Regions from separate parts of the Homo sapiens genome. Here all the other regions are reported to be linked to region 3. The links are microRNA targets in miRTarBase. Many come from high-throughput screens and were not tested one by one. Region 3 holds a microRNA gene; each other region holds the end of a gene's coding sequence.

Region 1 (8,207 bases), not on the chromosome of region 3:
AGCATGGACTTTTGTTATTATTAGAATTTGCCAACAGTCCATGGTGCAGGGAGACAGTTAACATAGAAAAGGACGTGCCCCCAGCTCTTCATCTGGGGAAAAAGAGGTGGTTAGCAGCGGAAGCAAAACCTAGGCCAAGAGACGAAATATCAGATTACTATGTCTAACCAAAACCAGCTCTTGACAGAATGATTCTTTTTAATATCCTTCTACTTCTTAAAATCCTGCTTATACATCAGCCCAGACTATCTGCTGGGTTCTGATACAAGCTGCTTAGGTGGGAAGGATAAGCAGCAAGTTAGAAAAAAATAGAGATATTTTAGTTTTATGTGAACTTGTGTGTCTCAGTGATGATGAAACTGGCAGGTCACAGATCACGTGAAATACTCGCAAGCAAAAACTGAAAGCTGGACGGCACCTGTCTGGAGCTGGCCCTTCTCTCTGAAGGTCGAGGCCCTAGTGGGTACACTGTAGTTTGGGTTGTATATTAGGGTGATCTAAAATAGTTAAGTTTTATACCACATTCTGGACCAGGTATCCAGACCCAAAGTTGGGCTTCCCATAAGGAGTCAGATGTGTAAGTAGCAAGTATTTATCAAGTTTCAATGGTGTTTCCCCATAAAACTTGTCAGTATTCCTGAATTTACAACAAACATGTTAAGAACGAGCTGAAGAGCACGTTTGCTTTCTTTTCACTAGTGGATTTGCTTCCAGTCTTTAGGGTTTAGTCTGACTTTAAAGCAGTAGAGACCGTATTGAGAACAACTGTTATCTAAAACCAAGATATTCAAGAAAGCTAACTAAATCTTTTTTAAAAGTACTAGGACAACTGATCTTTTAAGCAATCACTAAAGATATGAAATGCACAAGCAAGCCTATGAAAGTCATCTAGACTTATCTGTGCTTTTCTTTTTTTTTTTTTTGAGACAGCATCTCACTTTGTCACTCAGGCTGGAGTGCAGTGGCGCAATCTCTGCTCACTGCAACCTCTGCTTCCCGGGCTCAAGAGATCCTCCTGCCTCAGCCTCCCAAACAGCTGGGACTATAGGCACAAGCCACCAGGCCTGACTAATTTTTTTTCTTTTTTGTATTTTTGTAGAGACAGGGTCTTGCCATGTTGCCCAGGCTGGTCTCAAACCCTTGAGCTCAAAGTGATCTGCCCACCTCAGCCTCCCAAAGTGCTGGGACTACAGGCATGAGCCACCGCACCTGGCATTATCTGTGCATTTTTGGCCGAGTGCTTTTGCCCTTGGCCCAGGTAACTAACATTCTTTTTGGTTCAAATAGCTGTTAAGTATGGGGAACCTGGACTTTCCTCAAGGAAAGCAGTATAAGGAAGTCAGATTTCTACGGGTGAAGAAAAAATAGGTCAAATCAGATTCCTTTTCTTTATTTTTACTTGAGAACTTCACTCTTGAGTCCATGGCTTAAGCTCCGGGTCCTGCACGACAGGAGAGCATCGCTGAAGTGATTACGTGCCTGGCTACTTCCATGTCCTGGAGAGAGACTGTTTGTCAGACAGAAGTTACTTTATTCAACAGTCCCTTTATGTGGAAAGAATGCAGCTTGTCAGGCATAGCATACGTCGTACTCACTCCCCTTTTCTCTTCCAGCTCCAGGCCTGGTGGCGAGGCACTATGATACGGAGAGAAATTGGTGGTTTCAAGATGCCTAAAGACAAAGTTGATAGCAAGGATTCAAAAGGCAAAGGTAAAGGCAAGGATAAGAGGAGAGGCAAGAAGAAGTGACCAAGTTCTCTTTTGTGTTTTCTGCTGGTATTCTGGAGGTGGGAAGGACTTGGAGAGAGTTAAGAAACACCTGGTACCTCAAAGATGACTCATCTACAGGTTGTTTCCTATTGAGACTTTCCCAGGGAAGCCTGATTTCACTTTGCCTGTTAATTTCACTCTGCCTGTTAGGTGGGTTTTCAAACCCTGATTTAGGATTACACCATTGACTTAGGGCTTCCTCATACCTTGCTGGGAAGAAGTTTCTAGTAGTCCTGTGAAGATTCATTCTTCTTGCTCTTTCTCAGCAGAACAAAGGAGTTCACTGGCTTAGCTACAGTGACGCATTGAAACTTGAGTAATTCCTGTAATGTCAGATTTTGATTTTACCCAATTTGTCTGTAGTGAAAAAACTCTTATGAGCAAAAGTATTCAGTAGGAATTACAATATGATGTTATTAGCTGTCCAGCATAATATATACACAGCAAAGTTTTAATAAATGTTGGTTCCTGCCTGCCTTTTAGATTTATCGTCACTTTGGTGTTTTTATTCAGGTGAAAATGGCATGGAATACATATCCAGTTGTAAGCTGCTTCAGCAACTTTTCTAGGAAACAGGGATACAAATTATAAATACAAGCTAGAAATAGGATGTTAGGATATACAACTTTACAAACTATAAAGATGGGGACACAGGTTCTCTGGAAGGCTAGTTTGGAGATATTTTTGACAAGTGAAACACTAGAGCCACCAATCCCCACTTTATGGAGTGTTAAGATGAAAAGAAATCAGGTGTGTGAAAATATCTAACTTGTGCCTGGCAAATAGGAAAGCTGTCACTCTCCCTCTTCTCCTAGAAAAAAAATGCACCCACCAGATCATGCTTGCCTTGATGAGTCAAAACAATGCCTTGGGATGCTAAAGGTTTCCAAGAGCAAAGTTGTCCTAATGTGTCACATACATTTCATGAATTAAGCCTTCTATCTAACTCCAAATAAAGCTCAGTCTTGATATCTGTACTTCCTTAAAAAATGAATTTGATCTCAAAAGTTTGTCCCGAAGCCCCCATTTCCACTGACATTCCCTCTGGAAATGAGATGCTCTTTCCTTGATTCACCTTTGCCAAGGGAACCACACCTCAGGTATGAACACGCTCCAATCAGCTTTTATTACACGCCACTGAAGTGTTGGCTTTTATTTGAATGTCAATGTGTAAAGTGGCGTACAGGCAATTTAAAATAACATACATGATACTGACATATTTATACTTAGAACTTATGCAATATATTTACAGACAAAAATACAGGACAATGTTTTACAAAATCTTTCACTAATTACATGTTTACAACATTTTCAGAAATAAAACGAAATTTGCTGTAAACCATCTCAACTGCACTGTGTATATAGAAAGGCTTCTAAATATCCATGTTTTCATTTCTATAACCATTTAAGCGCTTAGTTTTTACGAATTCATCAAACTCATTCGCATAGTCACACATCATTAGTCACTGCTGAGCTGTAGAAAGTAAGAGAAATCGCAAACTCCTTGATTAGCTGTATTTTAAAAAGCTCTTCAGAAAAGTGATCTACTACTATGCTCTGTGTTCTAGCAGAATACAAAGGCCCCTCTTTCCATGGGTCGTTTCCAGACCTGGCTATTACAAGAGAACACTGGAGTGCTAAACACAGATTATGAGTCTGAAATACTGGGAAACTGCTGACAGAAAATCTCTGTACGTGGCAAGGGCTCTGCTGGGGGTGGCTCTCAACCCGACACTGTCAGTGATGGGAAGGGCTCTGCTAGGGGGGGCTCTCAGCCCCAGACACTGTCAGTGATGGGAAGGGCTCTGCTGGGGGGCTCTCAGCCCCAGACACTGTCAGTGATGGGAAGGGCTCTGCTGGGGGGCTCTCAGCCCCCAACACTGTCAGTGATGGGAAGGGCTCTGCTAGGGGGGGCTCTCAGCCCCAGACACTGTCAGTGATGGGAAGGGCTCTGCTAGGGGGGCTCTCAGCCCCCAACACTGTCAGTGATGGGAAGGGCTCTGCTGGGGGGCTCTCAGCCGCCAACACTGTTCAGTGATGGGAAGGGCTCTGCTGGGGGGCTCTCAGCCCCCAACACTGTCAGTGATGGGAAGGGCTCTGCTGGGGGGCTCTCAGCCGCCAACACTGTTCAGTGATGGGAAGGGCTCTGCTGGGGGAGCTCTCAGCTGCCGACACACTGTCAGTGATGGGAAGGGCTCTGCTGGGGGGCTCTCAACCCCCAACACTGTCAGTGATGGGAAGGGCTCTGCTTCAGGTCAGGGGAGCTGTGACAAGGTCATCTTCATCTTACACTGGAGTCAAGCAAAGCTAAATGTTAAACCGAATTGTGCTTTCCAATTTAAAAAAAAAAAGGTACATACAAAATACTGAATACAAAAATTCTCCCAACAAAAGCATCATGATTTGTTTTTGCATCTTGACATAAAAAAGAAATTCATACCTTCCTACCTCTGCAGAGGGTTTGAAAAAAGAGAAAAAAAATTCAAAGCATTTGATATTTTTCCTTCAATTATCAGCCAAAACTGCACATGGTTTTTCCTAACAATTCAAATACAAATCTGATTTAGTTTGATAAAAATACATTAATAAGGTTTCATAATATGTGCAAAATTTGAAATAAGTTGAAATTTCCATTTATCCCTATGGGAAAATTAGTTGCAAATGTTGCAAGTATTGCATTATGTAATGTCTTCTAGAATTATTCCTTGCATAGTATATTTTTGGTTTGGTGGGTTTTTTTTTTTTTTTTTTTTTGAGACAGAGTCTCGCTCTGTTGCCCAGGCTGGAGTGCAGTGGCACAATCTCAGCCCACTGCAACCTTCGGCTTCCAGGTTGAAGCGATTCTTGTGCCTCAGCCACCCAAGTAGCTGGGATTACAGGTGCCCACCACCACGCCCAGCTAATTTTTGTATTTTTAGTAGAGACAAGGTTTCACCATGTTGGCCAGGCTGGCTTGCGTATGTTAAAAACAATCCTGTCCTTTGCTGAATTTCATTTCTGGTGGCATATAATTTGGAGACTGTACTGAGGCTTAATGTTGACAAACACAGTTTAAAAATGCACATGGCTAAATTCTAAACAAGTTATATAAGGGTATATAAGAGTTGGTGGGTCTGTTGGGAACTGTAAATATAATGGGGTCTTACATAAAGACATTTTACTTTTGTTCTATAAGATTGGGCATTGAAGTTAGATGTTGTACAATTTATTTTTAGAGATGGGGTCTCACTCTGTTGCCCAGGCTGGAGTGCAGTGGTGCAGCCATGGCTCACTGTAGCCTCAACCTCCCAGGCTCAAGTGATCCTCCCACCCCAGCCTCCTGAGTAGCTGGGAGTACAGGCAGGTGCCACCACACCTGGTTTTTTTTTTTTTTTTTTAATTTTTGGGAGACAGGGTCTTGCTATGTTGCCCAGGCTGCTCTCAAACTCCTGGGCTCAAGTGATCCTCTTGCCTCGGCCTCCCAAAGTGCTGGGATTATAGGCATGAGCCACCATGCCCAGCCTGTTATACAATTTTAAACCTGGTCAAGTGGTAATGTTCTGATGAATTTGTTTCTCTGCAAGAACAAGGAAGAAAACATTACTTTGACCAGGTATTCAACATGATTTGATCCAAAGCTACTTTTAGATGCTACATTTACCTGATAAAAAGAGGGATAACATTATGCCCAAATGGATGCATTGTAAAGAAAATCCAGAACAGTTAACAACTACAGAAACAAAAGAGATATCTTCCGCTTACTTTATTTACTTGTTTTACAAAGGCAGTGAACACCAAAGGATATCACCAACAACTAAAAGGAGTTCAAAATGCAGGGGAAGGAAAACTAGCTGAAACTTGAGTAAAGGCTCCTGTGCGGTGTGAGCCCTTGGGCCCTTTTCCTCCACCCATCATTGAGTATATAAAGGCGCTTGTGGTGGAGCGAGATGGGGCGCGTTTTCTTTTTTTGAGATGGAATTTCGCTTTTGTTGCCCAGGCTGGGGTGCAATGGCACGATCTTGGCTCACCACAACCTCCGCCTCCTGGGTTCAAGCAATTCTCCTGCCTCAGCCTCCCGAGTAGCTGGGATTACAGGCATGCACCACCACGCCCAGCTAATTTTGTATTTTTAGTAGAGACGGGGTTTCTCCATGTTGGTCAGGCTGGTCTCAAACTCCCAACTTCAGGTGATCTGCCCGCCTCAGCCTCCCAAAGTGCTGAGATTACAGGTGTGAGCCACCACACCCAGCTAGGAAGATGCTGTAAGTGCTTAAATTCAGCCACAGAAACTGGCAGTTACCTGAAAGAAATACAAGAAACTAGGCTTTTCCGAGCTAGAAGTGTATGTGCTGTAACTGCAATGTGTCTGCAGGCCCAGATGTCTGAGGAGCAGCAGGAGGGCGGGGAGGGAGGCTCAGTGAGACCAAGTGCGCTATCAGCTTCAGAATTTGGAAACTCTGTATAGAGAGAGGGCTTGTTGTTGATAATGTCTAGATAACGGGGTTTGGAACCTGTGTATAGAGGGCTTGTTGTTTATTATAATGTCCAGATAACAGGATGACATAGAACTATCTTCTATGATGGTATGACTGCAGTTGAAGGGAGGCCTAGAATACTGACCTTAAATACAACTCTATCTGTTTCACTGTTTTACTATGCAAAATCTGGGCCAGGCCCGATGGCTCACTCCAGTAATCCCAGCACTTTGGGAGGCTGAGGCGGGAGGATCAGTTGAGCCCAGGAGTTTCAGACCAGCCTGGGCAATACGGCAAGACCCCAACTCTTAAAAAAAAGAAGACTATGCAAAACCTAGGCCTTCTATATTATTTTTGTTTTGCCTTTGACAGAACAGTCCAACTCCTCATAATATAGCTTTTGATTTTAAATGTGGGTGAAAAATGCAGGGGGCCATTACCCTCCCCCGCAAACATACAAATATCTAGCTTTGAACAGTGGTTCCACTACATGAAAAACACGTGCAATGGGCCGGGCGCCGGGCGCAGTGGCTCACGCCTGTAATCCCAGCACCCTCAGAGGCCGGGCACAGTGGCTCACGCCTGTAATCCCAGCACTCTCGGAGGCCGGGCGCGGGGGCTCACGCCTGTCATCCCAGCACTCTGGGAGGCCGGGCACAGTGGCTCACGCCTGTAATCCCAGCATTTTGGGAGGCCGAGGCAGGTGGATCACTTGAAGTCAGGAGTTTGAGACCAGCCTGGCCAACATGACAAAATCCCATCTCTACTAAAAATACAAGAAAATTAGCCAGGCATGGTGGCGGGCACCTGTTGTCCCAGCTACTCGGGAGGCTGAGGCAGGAGAATCGCTTGAGCCCGGGAGGCGGAGGTTGCAGTGAGCTGAGATTATGCCACTGCACTCTAGCCTGGGCGACTGAGCAGAACTCCTTCTCCAACAAAAACAAAAACATGTGCAATGGTTGTTGAAAATGCAGATTCCTAGGCCTTACCCCAGCTCTACTGAATGTGAATCTGTATTTTAACAAATACTCCAGGAGAGTCTAATGAACAACCAAGTTTAGAAACCAGCAGACCAGTTGTCTTGAGACCAGGTAAAAACAATGGCACAGCATGCTTGTGCCTAACACAGAAGATGTGCTTTCTGGCACGTGAAACACGCCTGCTCTCCAGGAAAACACAGCCAAGTTAGGTGCTGGGTTTTCAGTAAGAGAAGTTTCATCTGAGAAAACCAATGGTGTCTTCGTAAAAAAATTCAATGGAAATGGAAATAACCTCCCCTAAAATGGAGAAATGAAGCAAAATATTCCTGTTAGGAATCATGGGAACGGTCCCTTCTGAGAACACACAAGAGCTTTGTTTAAGCAGACAGCTGGCAGCAGCAATCACGGTGTCCTGTTCCTTGTTTTGGCCAGGCCAGTGCCCACCGTCCTGGGGATCCTCAAACAGCAGATAACTGGTGCTGCTGTTGCTTGGGTGGGGCAAGTTCCAGGAGAGCCTGGACCGTCACTGCAACCTGGCTCAAACCTTTCTCTTCTAAAATGTGGAGAGGCAAACATAATTGCTCCTGAAAGGGACAACGTAACATGAAAACAAACAAAAAAGAAAATCGGATGAATATCATAGAACTGAAAGGAAAAAATAAGCACTTCTCCCCTTCACAATCATCAACTTAGATATGAAAATTAGTACCTGGGAAACTGACCTCAGTGTAAATATGAGTTAGAGAGATGGTGTCTGACACTCACTGTCACTTTATTAATACAACTAAAAGTACATACAGATCATTTTCAAAATTGGAAAATTGACAAGTAGCATATATCTATACATACAACAGAGGGAAAACAATACCGCAGGGTGAAAGCAACATCCTTTATCCCTGATGAATAAAAGGTCAATACAGGTCTATAAAATAGGCAGGTGAAAAATAGAAAAACAATTCCACGCTACCAGATGGCTCAAGAGTAAAAGATACTACACTTGAGGG
Region 2 (8,207 bases), not on the chromosome of region 3:
GGCCAACATGGTGAAACCCTGTCTCTACTAAAAATACAAAAATTAGCCGGGCATGGTGGCGCATGCCTGTAATCCCAGCTACTCAGGAGGCTGAGGCAGGAGAATCGCTTGAACCCAGGAAACGGATGTTGCAGTGAGCCGAGATCATGCCACTGCACTCCAGCCTGGGCGATAGAGTGAGCCTCTGTCTAAAAATAAAATAAAATAAAATAAATTCCTAAACTGAAGGCTGACTGCTATGCTAGCTAGGATTATATGGGATTTTAAGTATATCAAGTGGTGGTTCTCCAAGAAGAATCTAATTTTTCTTTTGATGGGCTGGGGATTGTAACAAAGGAAGGTCATATGTCTTAATGATGTGTTAAGGCTCTTTGCAAAATCAAAGTAAATAAATTGACCACTAATGTGTCAGCCCAGCCATGTTCTGCTCATTTGCCACCAGTCAACAGAAATCTACTTTGGGTGTTTAAACCAGGAGTCAGCAAACTACAGCTCACAAGGCCAGATGTGGGCCATGGCCTGTTACTGTATGGCCTGTTAATGGTTTTAAAGGGTTGTAAAACAAAAGAACACAAAACAAAGACCCAATAACAAAACAAAGCCCGAAGAATAATATGCGACAGAGACCATGTATGGCATATAGAGCCTAAAATACTGACTCTCAAGCCCTTCCCAGAAATCCTTCCCGACTCCTTGTTGAAAACACGGTAGGAAAGCATTTGTCAAATTGAGGATATGAATAGCAATTGTAAGTTATTATTTTTCTATATATTCGAAAGTCACTTGCTAGTATAACATTTACCTTTTATTTTTCCCTAAGAATCTTCTCTCTGTTTGCTTTCGACATGGATTTTTAAACCCCTGCAGATTTTAATATTCTATATAAATGTTTTAGGTGGCATATATGAGGTTTGTATTAACATTTGCTTTCTATTTAACATTGAAATGAAATTATACAGCAGAGGTATTTTCTCGTCCAAGTTGCCACTTCTTTCTATCTTTTTTCTTTTCTTTCCCAGTGGACTGCCTGGGAAAATTGATATTTTAAATTGCTCTCTGCAATAATTTGCAATGGAACTGGAATGCCAGGGTTCTGAGTCCTTGCCAGACAGCTCGTCCCTCCTGTTGGCATGACTGAGTCAGCTGTCATGATTCCCTCAGTACCAGTGGCATGCCTGTGACAGACAGCCTGTCTGCCTTTCATTCCCGTCGTCTCCCTTGTAGGGTTCAGATCCAGGATACACTGGTCCTGGAGCCCCTCTCAGCCTGGCACCCACAGCTGCTGGGTTCCTTACTCTCCTGGACTGCTCTGATGTCATCTCCCTGCTCAGCAGAAAGAAGTCTGGGATCTTGATGCTTTGGCCCTCTGTCCTAGGCCCTAAACCACCCATTGCCCTTCACATAACCTGAGCTGGGGCTAAATAGATCTCTCATCACTGCCTGCCTGCTCCTGTATTTTCCCTTCTTGGAGCTTTTGCCTGTTCAGATCCCTCTACTGGAAATTAATAGGATTTCATTCTATGTGTGCATTTCCAACCTTTCTTCACAGTGCGATCCAAATGCCTCATCCTACAGGCCTCCTTAAAACAACCTGCTTTCTGCCAGACCCCAGGGAGCACCAGGACTTGAGGCTTTTATTGCACTTCTGTTGTTTTTTTGAGATGGAGTCTCGCTCTGTCGCCCAGGCTGGAGTGCAGTGGCACGATCTCTGCTCACTGCAACCTCCATCTCCCGAGTTCAAGAGATTCTTCTGCCTCAGCCTCTCAAGCAGCTGGGACTACAGGCATGTGCCATGACACCCGGATAATTTTTGTATTTTTAGTAGAGACGGGGTTCACCATATTGGCCAGGCTGGTCTCAAACTCCTGACCTCGTGATCCACCCACCTGGGCCTCCCAAAGTTCTGGGATTACAGGCGTGAGCCACCATGCCCAGCGTTATTTCACTTCTGCCTCTGTAATTATATTGCTGTATGGCTATCTCTTCTCTCCCTGGGAATGTCAGGTCCTAGGCACAGGAACTGTGTCTGTACCATATCTGGTGCCCAAAGAATGTAGTATGTGTTTTATAGATATCATGTAAGCTTAAACAGCGTGGTCTACATTTTTGTAAATGTCTTTCTTTTTCTTTTCTCTCCAGAATGAGAGAAGACAGTGCTAGAGTCTATGAAAACGTGGGCCTGATGCAACAGCAGAAAAGTTTCAGATGAGAAAACCTGCCAAAACTTCAGCACAGAAATAGGTATTTAAATGCAAGTGCTCTATTGGTTAATTGTTTATATAATTGGCAGTATTTTTAAGCAGGCAAGCAATTTGGGAATGTTTTAGCAAAGTGTACCATAATTGAGTTTTACAAACCAGGCTCCTTTTTCCTCTCCCTGTACTTCTTTTTCCAAGATGGTTTTAGTTTAGAGTTCATTAAACATTAAAATCAAACACAGAATTAATTCTGCATGAGGCAAGGCTAGCACTTATTCCAGAGAAATGGCTGATACTGGTGGTAGAGTGCAGGTATCACTGTTCCTGCAATTTTTATTAGAGTTGGTTAGCCCAGGCTGTGCTGGGGGATGATCTGTAGGGATCTGGGAAGCATCGGGACTCAGCACTGGGTGGTTGGGAGTCAGGAAGCCTGAGTTCTCATTTCAGTCAGTCTCTGACCAACTGTGTGGCATGGGGTGCTAGACCACTTGGCTGCCGACTGGGTCACCGACATCCCTTCCAGCTCTGCTGCTGGAAATTCATCTCTCCCATATGTTGCCTCCCCATCAATTACGTTTTTTAAGTGTGACCCAAGTATATGATGTATGTTTTCATGATAAATTAGAAACTTATCTGGGCATGGTGGCTCATACCTGTAATCCCAGCACTTTGGGAGGCTGAGGTGGGCGGATCACCTGAGGTCAGGAGTTCGAGACCAGCCTGACCAACTAAAATAGTAGAGACCAACCCGTCTCTACTAAAAATAGAAAATTAGCTGAGCATGGTGGTGCATGCCTATAATCCCAGCTACTCAGGAGGCTGAGGCAGGAGAGGCAGCGGTTGCAGTGTGCCAAGATCGCGCCATTGCACTCCACCTGGGCCACAAGAGTGAAACTCCATCTCAAAAAAAAAAAAAAAAAAAAAAAAACTCAGTGTCAGTATTTCATGTCGAAATTCCACTTCAATGGGTAGTGTAGTTAAAAGCTCTAAGTCTACCTTAAAATCACCTAATGCTTTGTTAAGCTTTTAGATATATGTTCCTTAAAAACTCTTAACTTATTTCTTCCCCAGATGTGGACTTTCACCCTCTCCCTAAAAAGATCAAGAACAGACGCAAGAAAGTTTATGTGAAGACAGAATTTGGATTTGGAAGGCTTGCAATGTGGTTGACTACCTTTTGATAAGCAAAATTTGAAACCATTTAAAGACCACTGTATTTTAACTCAACAATACCTGCTTCCCAATTACTCATTTCCTCAGATAAGAAGAAATCATCTCTACAATGTAGACAACATTATATTTTATAGAATTTGTTTGAAATTGAGGAAGCAGTTAAATTGTGCGCTGTATTTTGCAGATTATGGGGATTCAAATTCTAGTAATAGGCTTTTTTATTTTTATTTTTATACCCTTAACCAGTTTAATTTTTTTTTTCCTCATTGTTGGGGATGATGAGAAGAAATGATTTGGGAAAATTAAGTAACAACGACCTAGAAAAGTGAGAACAATCTCATTTACCATCATGTATCCAGTAGTGGATAATTCATTTTGATGGCTTCTATTTTTGGCCAAATGAGAATTAAGCCAGTGCCTGAGACTGTCAGAAGTTGACCTTTGCACTGGCATTAAAGAGTCATAGAAAAAGAATCATGGATATTTATGAATTAAGGTAAGAGGTGTGGCTTTTTTTTTTTTCTTTTTTCCAGCCGTTGACCAATTATAGTTCGGCTGTTGACTGAGAAGTTTGTGGTGGGAAAACGTTTGCCATATTTTCTTTGCATTTGAATAATTGTCTTGTACTTAGAAAAAAGGCGTCTATGAATGACCAGTGTTTTTGGTCGCCAAATGTTGCTGACAAACTTATCCCAAAACTTTAGTGGCTTAAAAAAACCTGCCCCCAACTGTTAGTCAATCTGAGCTGGGCTCAGCTGGGCTGTTCTTCTGCCAGCCTGCAGGTGGCCACTCATGTGGTCAGCAGGTCGGCGGAGAGACTGGGATGGCTGGGCTTCTCTCTCTGCCTGCAGTCCTGAGTCTCTCCTTCTTCGTGTAGTCTCTTTCAGTGGCCTGGCTGGCAGGGTAGCTAGACCTCTCACATGCAGCTCAGAGCTCCCAAGAGCTCAAAAGCAGAAATGGCCAGGCCTTCTGAAAACTTAAGTCCAGAATTGTCACAGTGTCCCTTCTACTTCCCTCTATTGATGATGATGATGATGATGATGATGATGATGATGATGATGATGATGGTTTTTTCTAATCAGAAGAAAGCTGGGGTATGCCCTCTACTTACTAAACAAGTCACAAGCCCAGCTCAGATTCAAGAAAAGGGTGTGAAGTAGAGGTGCAGTTAAGTGGGGGGCCACTAGTCTAACAGACGGTCACAACCAGTGCCATGGAAAACCAAGGATATTAGCAAAAGCAGAAGTTGCTAGTGACCTTGGGAAGCCGAAGCTGCTTACAGTAGCTGGGACAAGCTGAAAGTCAGACTAAGAAATAAAGAGAGGGCCTTCAAGAAGCTTCCTGAATGATTTCTGCTAGCCCTGAGCCTATTTTTGGAACCAGCACTTGGGGAAACTGATCTTGTGAGGATGGATGTGTTTAGGGACACAGGGCTTTTGAGAGCAGCACCACCCCACTGGGGCATCCCCAGACTTGGGAAACGTGACTCTTTCTTAATGCCACTGGGTTTTAGTCAGGCCACAGTGAGAAGGAACAGCCCTAACAGGCCTCCAGCCAGGTTGAATGAGCTCATTTTTGTTGTAGCCAACCAGTAAGATTTGCTAATGTTCTACATTAAGTGCCTTCTCCAAAGACATCCCTCTTTGCCTCATATGTTGAATCATCCAGTGCGGATATTTCAATGAAAATATCATTGGTTGACTTTTGTGATGGTAATAATGCTATGGCATCTTTGCCATGAAGTTGTGGCCTCCTTGGATTCTTCTGACTTTGGCTTCTGAAAGGAAGGCCTAGATCCAGCCCTGGTGGTAGTTCCTTTCTGAGGTCTCTCAGTCCCTTGAGACTTTGGGGTAGTTTGGCTGCCATTCTCACTGACAAAATGTATATCAGCCCCCACCTCCACCCCCCAATATTCCTTGAACTTTGAATTGCTTCAGAACACAGGTGTGGCCTGAAGGTATTCCCTTATTAGGGAAGTGTCACTGCTGTCTTCTAGTCAAACTTGTAAAGAAAAAGATTCCAGTTCAGTATTTGCAGCAAGAAGCTTGAATGCTGTTCTTTTTATCGCATTGTTACATCGACTCATTCTCCATTTTGCTTTGGTTTTGTCTTGACTTGACTTGACTTTGGGGGTAAAGTCTTTCACCAGCACACAAGAGTTTGATTGTACAAATATATCTTCTGCATTAACATCTCTGCCTGTTGCTTAAGATCAGTTGCTTTTATACTCAGAATGGAAATACCTGATCTTGGCTAGTTTTGTTATAAGATATTGATTTCATTTAGATTTCCCTCCACGAGGTCAGCAAACTATCATGTTCTTATGTAAACTTAGGCCAAGGCCAGAGTTATCATAGTCCCTAGGTTGCTACGGCTTATCATGTGCTTGGTAAAAGGTGATCGCAGGTTCTCAGACGAGTTTACTTTACATGAGATGGAATCAGGCAGAGAGGCTGGGATGATGGAGAAAGCTCGAGGTGAAGTTTTAAAAAAAAAGTTGTGGAAAGGAAAGTTCCAAAGAGGTGGTTTCTGAGGAAGTCAGAGCGCCCAGGGCCAGAGCAGTCAGTAATGGGTGAATGAGGTTGTTTGGAAAGTCGGTGTGACAGACACATGGATGCCATCTACTTCTAGGTTGCTGGTGGGTATTAAATATGCACAATATTCCATAGCTCACTGAGGATTTTAAAATTATAAGCATAGGATTTTATATTTTGGGGTGAAAGAATTATCTGGCACATTAGGTATTGGAGTTTAAAAAAAAAGCCAAATTTCACAGTCTTAATAACTTTTTTTAAAAAAAACTAAAAGGCGCTTCATGTCCAGTGTGTGGCCCTTCTGAAACTTATGGTCATCTCTCCCACTGAAACCAAGGTCTTTTCAAATGTGGCTAAATGGGGATGAGGAGACACGGGTAGGACTTTCTTGGTGTGTGTGCATTCTTTAAAGAGCCAAGTTGCTTCGGGGAAACAGCCAGGAAAATGGTCAAGATTATTTTTAGAGGTTATTTTATTGGGGATTTTAAGAACTAATAACATCTTGAGTTATTTTTAATTCAGGGGGATGTGGAAAGGTTTGCAATTGTCAAGTGTTTTGTTGTAGCTTAGTATCCATAAGGGAAACTTAGACTATAGACATAACTACAAAGCCAGTGCAGCTTTTGTTTTCTGTATGTTGTTGGGGGATCAACTTTCACACATAGCAAGCACATGGCCTCCCTGATGTCAGGATGCCTTTGTTAGGATCTGTATTTGCCCTTAATTTTGTTGAAATCTTTTTTCCTTCTTCCTCTTGAAAAGTTCCAAAATATAGTTTATTGTATCTTTCATCACTAAAAATTTGTTCCTTTTTCACTATGGGCAGTTCACACAAGGCAAAAACTATTGAACAGTTGGTTTTAGTGTGTTGTATAACTTTGCTGTATATCAAACTAATTTTGACAAGTTTTCATCCTAAGCCTCAAATCATGTAATTAATAATTTGCCTGTTTATTTATGACCTAATTGTGATTCTTTTATTAATAAAAGCTAATGGGAAAAGGATCCCTGATTAAGCTGATGACTAGACCTACAATTAATTTTCCTGCAGTATATGAAGTATTGTACCAGAGTATTAAAAGATATGTAATATTTTATTGATAAATCTATCCTTTAAAAGGAATACGTTTTAGGATGTCATCATTTTGATGTGAATCATGTAAATGTTGATAATATGCTGTTTATTATACATTTAGTGTTTCAAGAGATTCACTTAATTGCCTTTTTGCCCACGTATATTATGTAGTCTATTTGCAACTGTTCTTAAAAAAATGACATTAAAAGAATAGTTTATGTAGAGAAACATTAGTGGATGTTAATTGTCTCCCCACCTATATTTATGGGTGTTAGCGCAACTGCTTTGCTAGTTGCAAAGCTGTATTATCAGAGTAAAAGTGTATTTGTAAACTGTATGGGAACTAAAAATTAGGAATAAAACCATTTTCTTATATGATGGCATTTGTCGTTTGCTTCATCAGAAATGTCCAGGAAAAAAATGGGATTATTGGTCACTCCACCTCTCACACTGGCAAAATACTGACATTTAGCAGCTCTTATCTAGAAGTGACTTGGAACATAGAATAAAGGCATGAGTTCCTGAAGAATTCATTGAGTGTTTCCTGTAGAAATAGCTTTAGGAGATAGGGAGTTCTATCTGGGAGAACATATGAGTAACTCAAGAGTAAAAAGTATAGTCTGTGTAAACTATAGAAGAAATGCTGGGCATGGTGGCGCGCCCCTGTAATCTCAGCTACTTGGAGGCTGAGACGGGAGGATTCCTTGAACCCAGGAGCCCAGGAGTTTTAGACCAGTCTGGGTAACATAGTGAGACCCTTTCTCACCTACTCTCACTGCATGCCCCCCAAAAATATATATGTGCGCGCACGCGCGCGCACACACACATACACACACACACACACACACACACACACAGAGGAAATTGTTAGAAAACACACAGAACTGAATGTAAATAGTATTAGGTGGGAATAAGAAGTAAAGGGATGGTAAGGAGGCTTGGAGGAGGAGTAAATTATCTGCTATGGGACATCAGCTCTTCCTTTAGAGTAGGTTTAGGTCACATACCAACAGGGCCACTTTGTTCTGACAACAGTGTGCACTGACATGGGCAGAAAGAAACCATTTTATAGATAGCAAAACAGGTGGTTATTCTTTATTAGAAATATAAGGAATGATTTGGATTACTTATTTACACTGTAAAATACTATGACCCCCCTCTCAGTCTCATTTGAATTGTTTAATGCATCTAATCAAATCTAGCTGGTTTAGTTTGTTAGTCCTGTCA
Region 3 (8,207 bases):
TATTAGGGTGTCGATTTGAGATCTTTGCAGCTTTGTGATGTGTGCATTTAGTGCTATAAATTTCCCTCTTAACACTGCTTTAACTGTGTCCCAGAGATTCTGGTACATTGTCTCTTTGTTCTCATTGGTTTCCAAGAACTTCTTGATTTCTGCCTGAATTTCATTATTTACCCAGGAGTCACTTGGGAGCAGGTTGTTCAGTTTCCATGTAATTGTGTGGTTTTGAATGTGTTTTTTAGTCCTGAGTTCTAATTTGATTGCATTGTGGTCTGAGAGACTGTTTGTTATGATTTTAGTTCTTTTGCTTTTGCTGAGGAATGTTTTACTTCCAATTATGTGGTCGATTTTAGAATAAGTTCCATGTGGTACTGAGAAGAATGTATATTCTGTTGATTTGGGTTGGAGAGTTCTGTAGATGTCTATTAGGTCCACTTGATACAGAGCTGAGTTCAAGCCCTGAATATCCTTGCTAATTTTCTGTCTCATTGATCTCTCTAATATTGGTAGTAGAATGTTAAAGTCTCCCACTATTATTGTGTGGGAGTCTGAGTATCTTTGTAAGTCTCTAAGAACTTATTTTATGAATCTGGGTGCTCCTGTATAGGGTGCATATATATTTAGAGTAGTTAGCTCTTGTTGAACTGTTCCCTTTACCATCATGCAAGGCCTTCTTTGTCTTTTTTTTTATCTTGTTGGTTTAAAGTCTGTTTTGTCAGAGACTAGGATTGCAACCCATGCTTTTTTTTTTTTTTTTTTTCTTTCCATTTGCTTGGTAAATTTTCCTCCATCCCTTTGTTTTGAACCTATGTGTGTCTTTGCACATGAAATGGATCTCCTGAATATAGCACATCAATGGGTCCTGACTTTTTATTCAATTTGCCAGTCTGTGTCTTTTAATTGGGGCATTTAGCCCATTTACATTTAAGGTTAGCATTCTTATGTGTGAATTTGATCCATCATCATGATGCTATCTGGTTATTTTGCACAACAGTTGATGCAGTTTCTACATAGTGCCATTGGTTTTATATTTTGGTGTGTTTTTGCAGTGGCTGGTACTGGTTTTTCCTTTCCATATTTAGTGCTTCTTTCAGGAGCTCTTGCAAGGCAGACCAAATGGTAACAAAATCTCTCAGCATTTGCTTGCCCAGAAATGATTTTATTTCTTCTTCGCTTATGAAGCTTAGTTTGGCTGAATATTAAATTCTGGGTTGAAAATTCTTTTCTTTAAGAATGTTGAATATTGGCCTCCAATCTCTTCTAGCTTGTAGAGTTTCTGTTGAGAGGTCTTCTGTTAGTCTGAAGGGCTTTGCTTTGTAGGTTACTTTGCCTTTCTCTCTGGCTGCCCTTAATATTTTTTCATTCATTTCAACCTTGGAGAATCTGATGATTATGTGTCTTGGGGTTGATCTTCTCATGAAATATCTTAGTGGTGTTCTCTGTATTTCCTGAATTTGCATGTTGGCCAGTCTTGCTATGTTGGGGAAGTTCTCCTGGATAAAGGATAGGTAAATTCTATGGGTAATACAGTAGATATAGTGCAACAGGAACTTACCAGTTAAGATACAGTCATAACCACTCACCCCTAGTTGGAATGTAGGTTTCACACAACTCCCACTGATGAAAAGAAATATATGTATTTTTCAACTGTTTAACCCTTTGTTAAGTTTTCTTGTGTAAAATTATCTGCAGAGCCATGAAAAACCATTTGATATTTGTGACTAAGCAGCCTGTTTGGATGATTATGCTCTTCAGTATGAATGGTGAGCTGTTAAATGACATGCTCAATCATTGCTATGGAAGAAATTTGTTCTTACTAGCAACTTGAAGCTTAAAGAAACATTTATAGGAAAGAAAATTACTCAAAGCTTTAAATAAGGCTACTTTTAGAGTTGGCCTTAGACTACCTAGAGGGCATGATGATTAATCTTTCACAAATTACAGATTTTATTTGTTCATGTCCAGTGAGGTGACTTCTTGGTGGACATCTTCATTGCAATTTTCAGCAGCTCTATCAATGACACATGTTAACTGAAGCTGACATGGGTTGCTCTTGCTCTCTTGGAATGTCTTTATTTCTGTCCTAATATGCAAAGGTAGTGCCAGAATTTCTTAATAGGAGGGCCTCAGGTATAACAATCTAGTTGACAGGAAAAGCAATGGAATCTTCACTGCATTTGCATCACAAGCATACTGTTTTTTCTTACGTGTGTTTTTTAGGGTGTCTTGGGATGTTGATCCTCTTTAAGTCAAATAGAAAAAATGAAAATGAAATGCCATAGCCAATATTAGAGATATATTAATTTTAGTCTTTGTTGCTTTTATATTTTTCTAGGACAAAGAGATCTTCAAAAATCAAAAATGAGGTTCACATTTACAAGCCGGTGCTTGGCACTGTTTCTTCTTCTAAATGTAAGTAAAACAAAAGTATTCAAAGCCATGCTAATGAAGAATGCTGAATAAGGAGGAATGTTTTGAGTGTGATTTAATTAGTATTTGCAAGGGTAGGCATTGGTCTCCAGAAGCCGAAACTAAGTTCCTCAAAGCCATTATTTTGCTTAATATTTTGTTAACAAATCTCTCCTCTGAACTGTCTCTAATTTAAATTAGTGTTTGTGGTCTACCCAGAAATTTGAGTTTTGTTTACAAAACTTTAGCATTAATTTTAGACATCTCCATATTATCTTAGAAATTAACATAGTTGGTAAATAATATTCTCAGGTAAAATGTTTTCATGTTGAAAAAACTATGTTTTGAATCTTAGTTCAAAACTATGATTTGAATGATAGTTTCTGGGCTGTTCAATCCTTTTAAAACATCTGGGCTGTTCAATTCTTTTAAAACTTCTGAACTCTTTCAGTCTGGCTATTGATTTCAAATGTATTTTTCATCAAAAACTGACTATGGAAACTTCAAGTCTTTATATACCACTATTATTCTATAACTCTTTCTCCAATCTTTTAAATTATGTTCAGTTTGTGTAATTCTATATTGTTTTATTCCTAAAAGATTTAGCAAGTAATCGGAAATATAATCATCTTAGAGAACACTATCAATGCCTATTATTTGTGTCAACATTGTTAACCTACCATCACATCAGCTTCAATAGCACATGAATGGGAGATGAGTAAATTTTACGTAAATCAATGTGGAGCTGCCTTGCTTCTTATCCTTTCTGTCACATCAGAGTAACATTTGCTAATAAATTACAGTTGGCAGCAAAGATCACTCAATATCTCATACTGTCATACTGACCCACACAAAGCTTGCATAGGGTTCGAGGATTTCCATTGTTTATTAATGTGTAGTTATAGGCCTACAAGTCTGTCTAAACTGTTTGTCTTTATATTATTCAAGAAAAAAATATTGCTAGTATTTCATAAATGTTAATTTAATTTGTAAGGCAATTTTTATTTTGTAATATTGTACATCAAATAAATGGTGTATGGGAATGACTATTAATGCAACCCTTTTGCACCTATTTGGATAATGAGTATAACTTATTTTATTGTCAGTTTGTCTTATCATTTTATCCTATTAAATATTTCTTTAGATAAATTACAGTAAAATTTTCTAAAAGTAATTAGTATTTGGAAATGCAGGTTTCTTTATGTCACTGGAAATATAATAAAAACACTAAACAAGACTACTATGGAAACTAATAGAATATTTTAATTTGCCAGTAAATACCCAGGCCTTATGTGGTCTTCTATGGATGTAAAAATATTGCTATATATTATTGATATTGTTATTTTTCATAGCTCAAATGAAATCCTAAGTGATCTGGTATATGTGAATATTTTTGAATAATCATGCTTCATAAATAATTATATTGAACATGACAGAAGAAAAACTAAAGAAAGAACTAAATACTAACAAAATTGTTTGAAGATTATCTAATTACCTTTTTTATTACAAAGGCTTTAGAAAATTTGTAGTGTGTTCAAAAAGCAACGTAGGTCATTTTTATTCAAAACTTTTACTAATGTAGTCTATAATTTAAATATTGAAAAAAATGCACATCTTTGCATGAGCCATGGACAGAAACATTTTATGGCTTGTGGGCACCTCTTGACCAGCAAGCATAACTGAACAGGGCACTTAAATGGGTTTGTGCTCTCTTTGCTGTGACAGAGAGAAATTTGCTTCTCTCTCTGTATTTGGATTATATATTTGATTTGGAGGATTTGTCCATAAAACAAAATTTGATATGTCCATTTTCTTCAAAACGTTTATTATGTTCACACTGACACTTCTCAGAGAAAAAAAATTTTAATGACAATGTTCCTAATTAATCCGAAATATTACTTTTTAGACAATAGATTGTTGTGAAAATACACTAACTATTGAACTCTATCAACTCGATTTCCATATAGGTTTTAAAGTCTCAGTTTGGGTCACCACCTTCAATTAGCCTCTTTCCATTAACCATAACCACCCACTCAATTCCTCTCCCTCCTGCGAGGTATACAGTAAGCTTAGAGCAGCAGTTGGTATACAGTGAGCTCTCAGAAAAAGATGCCAGTGACGATGCTGATGACAACAAAGCCAATGGTAATAACAAAGACATAAAAATTAGGTTCTTCAGAGCAGGTGTTATTGTTACTTGTTTACTTATCTATGTTCACCTATTTGCTTTGAATTTATGATATATGCAGTTTCGTTGTTTATATAATGTAAGTAGAATTACACAGTACACCAGCCAGGCATCTGATCTTACCTGGGAAAACCAGGGCTAACACTTTTTACAACAGTGTGCTTTGTCCTTTCTTATTTTGAAATGTGTAAGTAACTGAAAAGCAAAAATAATTATATACATTATCAACATTAAGGATGGTGACATGAAAATCTCATTGGTTGCATCAGTTTGTGGATTCTAGGTTTACATACTTTTTAGAGTAGTTTTGCATGTGGCAATCAATAGGAAGCTCTCCCTTCAGCACAGCAGCTTGGGTCCATACACTCAGTGGGCTTGAACTATTGCAGAGATGGACCATTTCTCAAAGTTCCATGAAGAACAGCTCTGTAACTGTCTCTGTACTTCTAGAAACTGCCTGTAACCCAAAAGCAAACTGACTGTCCTACATCACAGTAGGAATTGCATAAGCATATGACCATTTCAAATCAGATTCCTTTCCTGTGGATTCCATGATTAGTGTGGATAAAATCAAGAATGTAAGCTCTATGAGAGCAGGTGGCTTGCCAGTTTGGTTCACTGCTGAATTTCCAGAACCTAGAAGAGTGCCTGACATGTGAGAGGCACTCAAAGTATTTGTCGACTGAAAAAAACTGATGATGTTTGGGCTGCTGACTACTGCTGTTGGTGGCAGCTTGGTGGTCGTATGTGTGACGCCATTTACTTGAACCTTTAGGAGTGACATCACATATACGGCAGCTAAACTGCTACATGGGACAACAATTAAGAGTTTTGTTTGTTTGTATGTTGAAAAATCATGTAAGATGGTTTATATGCAAAGCTTTGAAAACTGATGTTTATTCAGAAAAACAATATGCCCTTAATATCTCATTTCTATCTGAATGTGAACATATAATCATATTTTTATTTAACCCCCTGAAATAAGTAGTATAGACATAACACTTATAATAAGTAGGATATTTGAAGTCTCTTACATTGTTTGGTAGTTTCATCCAATCACTACTGGTTTTATTTTGTCTCTGTATTGCTGAAAATGATACCACCTTCCCAGCAATTCTTATTTGTATAAAATTATCAGCAAAAGTTTAACATTTAATAAACTTTATGAAATTTGTATATGTGTTATTTTTAAGCAGTAGTAATTCCATGATTGTAATTATATATATATAATATACATAAAATCATACATATACATATATTTATATGTTTATATCTATCTATCTGTCTGTCTATCTATCTATCTATCTATCTATCTATCTATCTATCTATCTATCTATACAGTCAGCCCTCTGTATCCATGGGTTGTACATCCATAGATTGAACCAATCTTGGATAGAAAATATTCAGGAAAAAATTGTATTGTAAACATACAGACTATTTTTCTTTTTATTATTTCCTAAATAATACAGTATAACAACTATTTACATCATATTTACATTGTACTAGGTATAAATAATCTGGGGATGATTTAAATAATACAGGAGGATGTACATAGGTTATATGCAAATACTACACCATTTTATATGAAGGACCTAAGCATCCTCAGATTTTGGTATCCACATATGCAAATACTACACCATTTTATATGAAGTACCTAAGCATCCTCAGATTTTGGTATCCACAGGAGGTCCTGCAACCAATCCCCTGAGTATACCAAGGGATGACTGTATGTATAAACGTAATGCCCCAATGGGTATGTTATTTTAGGAAGAAGGCCACTGAGACATTCATCTACTGTTGGGAAAATTCCATCTTCAGTGCTCAAATATGAACCAGACCAGGAACTGATGCAGATTATTACTGCTCATCTGACAACAGAGGTTCTAATTTTTCATTCCTTCAGTGTTGAAACAATCTCTACTGAACCAGCTTCAAACAAGTTCACTGGAGTTTGTTTCAATATTGCAAGAATGATAAGATGGAAGCTACTTTCATCAGCATGAATTATAACTACTCGTATACAGATTGTCGTATTTCCACTGTTACTGATGTTAAAACTGCATTAAAGCAAATAAAAATATAATTGAAAATACAAGCATAGGGTTTTCTACTTGTTATCCTCGGACATACTATTTGCCTATGGTTTCCATGAATTTCCAACTAGAGCAAGAAAATCTCTTGGTTGGTTGTCAGCCATATAAAAAGAGAATTCAGAATGTTACTTTTGGGAAGAAAGCCAGATTTAAACAAAATACTTCCCAGTGTTTAGCATATCTAATACAAGTGACAGATAAGATTTATATATGACATCATGTTCCATCTTCTAATTCGATTTGAAGATGGTGAGAAAATGGTCCAGAAATTAATAATACATCAAATGATCATTCTCATATTAACTGAAGATTTTAGAGCCACAAAAGAAGAATCTAAAATAAATGTATAAGTTGAACCAATAATTAATATCTCTATTGTGAAGGCATCATGATCCATTCTTGTTTTGATGGTTGCCTAATATGTAATTGAATTTTTAAAACACACATATTCATACAAAAGTTGAGTAATAAACTAAAAAAAGAAACCTCAACATGGAATCCCTTCAAATTACTCTTTTTTAAAAATTTTGCAAATCGTGTTCCAATTCCATTAGGAATATCTAAGAATTTTATGACTGATGATTCTTTATTGTTCATAATTTCAAGTATCAGAAATATATTTTATAGTGTTGGTCCATCTTGCCAGACTGTAAGCTCTATGAGAGCACAGTCTACACTTATTTTATTCAGCACTGTATCCTCAGCATCTGGCACAATGTTGGGCTCATCAAGTTTGATCAATATTTGCTGACTGATCTGAAGACCAGTGGGGAAAGTGTCATATATCAAAAGAATTGTGTTCAGCTACACTGGTAAAGGATTTGCACAGTTATAATCATTTTTATGGGTTCATTACTTTCTCTTCTGACATAAATTCAAGAGACATTAAAATTAGAAATCAACAAAATGTTTAAAGAGTAGTGTCAACCTTATTCACAATTGGTGTCCATTTGAAGTTATCACAGTAATGTTATAATAATGATAAGTATTCACCCTCTTCTCTTTGCAAGATATTTCCACTAGGATGGCTTGCTACCATCTCCAAATCTAACCCAAAATAGGACTTACTTACCAAGGGGGAGAAGTTCCCCCTAATAAGGTTTTCCTTTCCCAGCATCTTCCCTTTCTTGGGAACTATTTTTTTCCCCAAATATCTAGGCTAATTATCTGGGCTATTTGACTATTACTGTTTCCCATTCCTTGTATTCAAATATGCCTTCATGTTTTTATTATTGAGAAGGTGCTAAGAGTGGTACTTTCTTGTTCCAACATGGACTGATCTAGTCCAGCCAGGCCTTCAACTTCCTGGCTGCCCCCACCCCACCCCGCAACTTTAACCTGTGGACATCTGATGCCTGCTGCATGAATTTTACTAAAAATTCTCCTTTCACAACCTTCACTGATCAAAAATCTACAAAACATCTTTATCATATATATTATGTTATATACCATGTTTTAACAATATTAGCTAAAATGTTTTGAACCTTTCATGTCCCTGACACTTGGTGTTTATTGTCTTG

The links. The annotated mature microRNA hsa-miR-489-3p reads GUGACAUCACAUAUACGGCAGC and lies in region 3 at 5,372-5,393, shown strand. An mRNA with a match to its seed (bases 2 to 7 or 8) in the 3' UTR can be bound and repressed. Matches are read on the target gene's strand: a 7mer-m8 pairs with bases 2 to 8, a 7mer-A1 pairs with bases 2 to 7 and ends in A, and an 8mer does both.
Region 1: miRTarBase lists DRC9 as a target of hsa-miR-489-3p. The part of its 3' UTR that is shown has no 7-base or 8-base seed match.
Region 2: miRTarBase lists PTPN11 as a target of hsa-miR-489-3p. Seed matches in the 3' UTR shown: 7mer-m8 at 6,589-6,595 and 7mer-m8 at 7,039-7,045.

The regions. Positions count from the first base shown.
Region 1 is chr3:197,883,121-197,891,327 of GRCh38, reverse strand. It overlaps DRC9 (dynein regulatory complex subunit 9), which reads left to right. Exons shown (of 12, transcript NM_032263.5): 12 at 1,614-2,251. The coding sequence ends at 1,748. It overlaps LRCH3 (leucine rich repeats and calponin homology domain containing 3), which reads right to left. Exons shown (of 21, transcript NM_001365715.1): 21 at 2,892-7,787. The coding sequence ends at 7,662. Among named protein-coding and RNA genes, the nearest start is that of RPL35A, 63 kb to the left of the region's middle.
Region 2 is chr12:112,502,556-112,510,762 of GRCh38, forward strand. It overlaps PTPN11 (protein tyrosine phosphatase non-receptor type 11), which reads left to right. Exons shown (of 16, transcript NM_002834.5): 15 at 2,140-2,241; 16 at 3,270-7,363. The coding sequence ends at 2,209. Among named protein-coding and RNA genes, the nearest start is that of PTPN11, 88 kb to the left of the region's middle.
Region 3 is chr7:93,481,133-93,489,339 of GRCh38, reverse strand. MIR489 (microRNA 489) reads left to right here and starts at 5,321; the gene lies at 5,321-5,404. CALCR (calcitonin receptor) reads left to right here. Exons shown (of 14, transcript NM_001742.4): 3 at 2,333-2,409. The coding sequence starts at 2,359. It overlaps MIR653 (microRNA 653), which reads left to right and starts at 6,485; the gene lies at 6,485-6,580.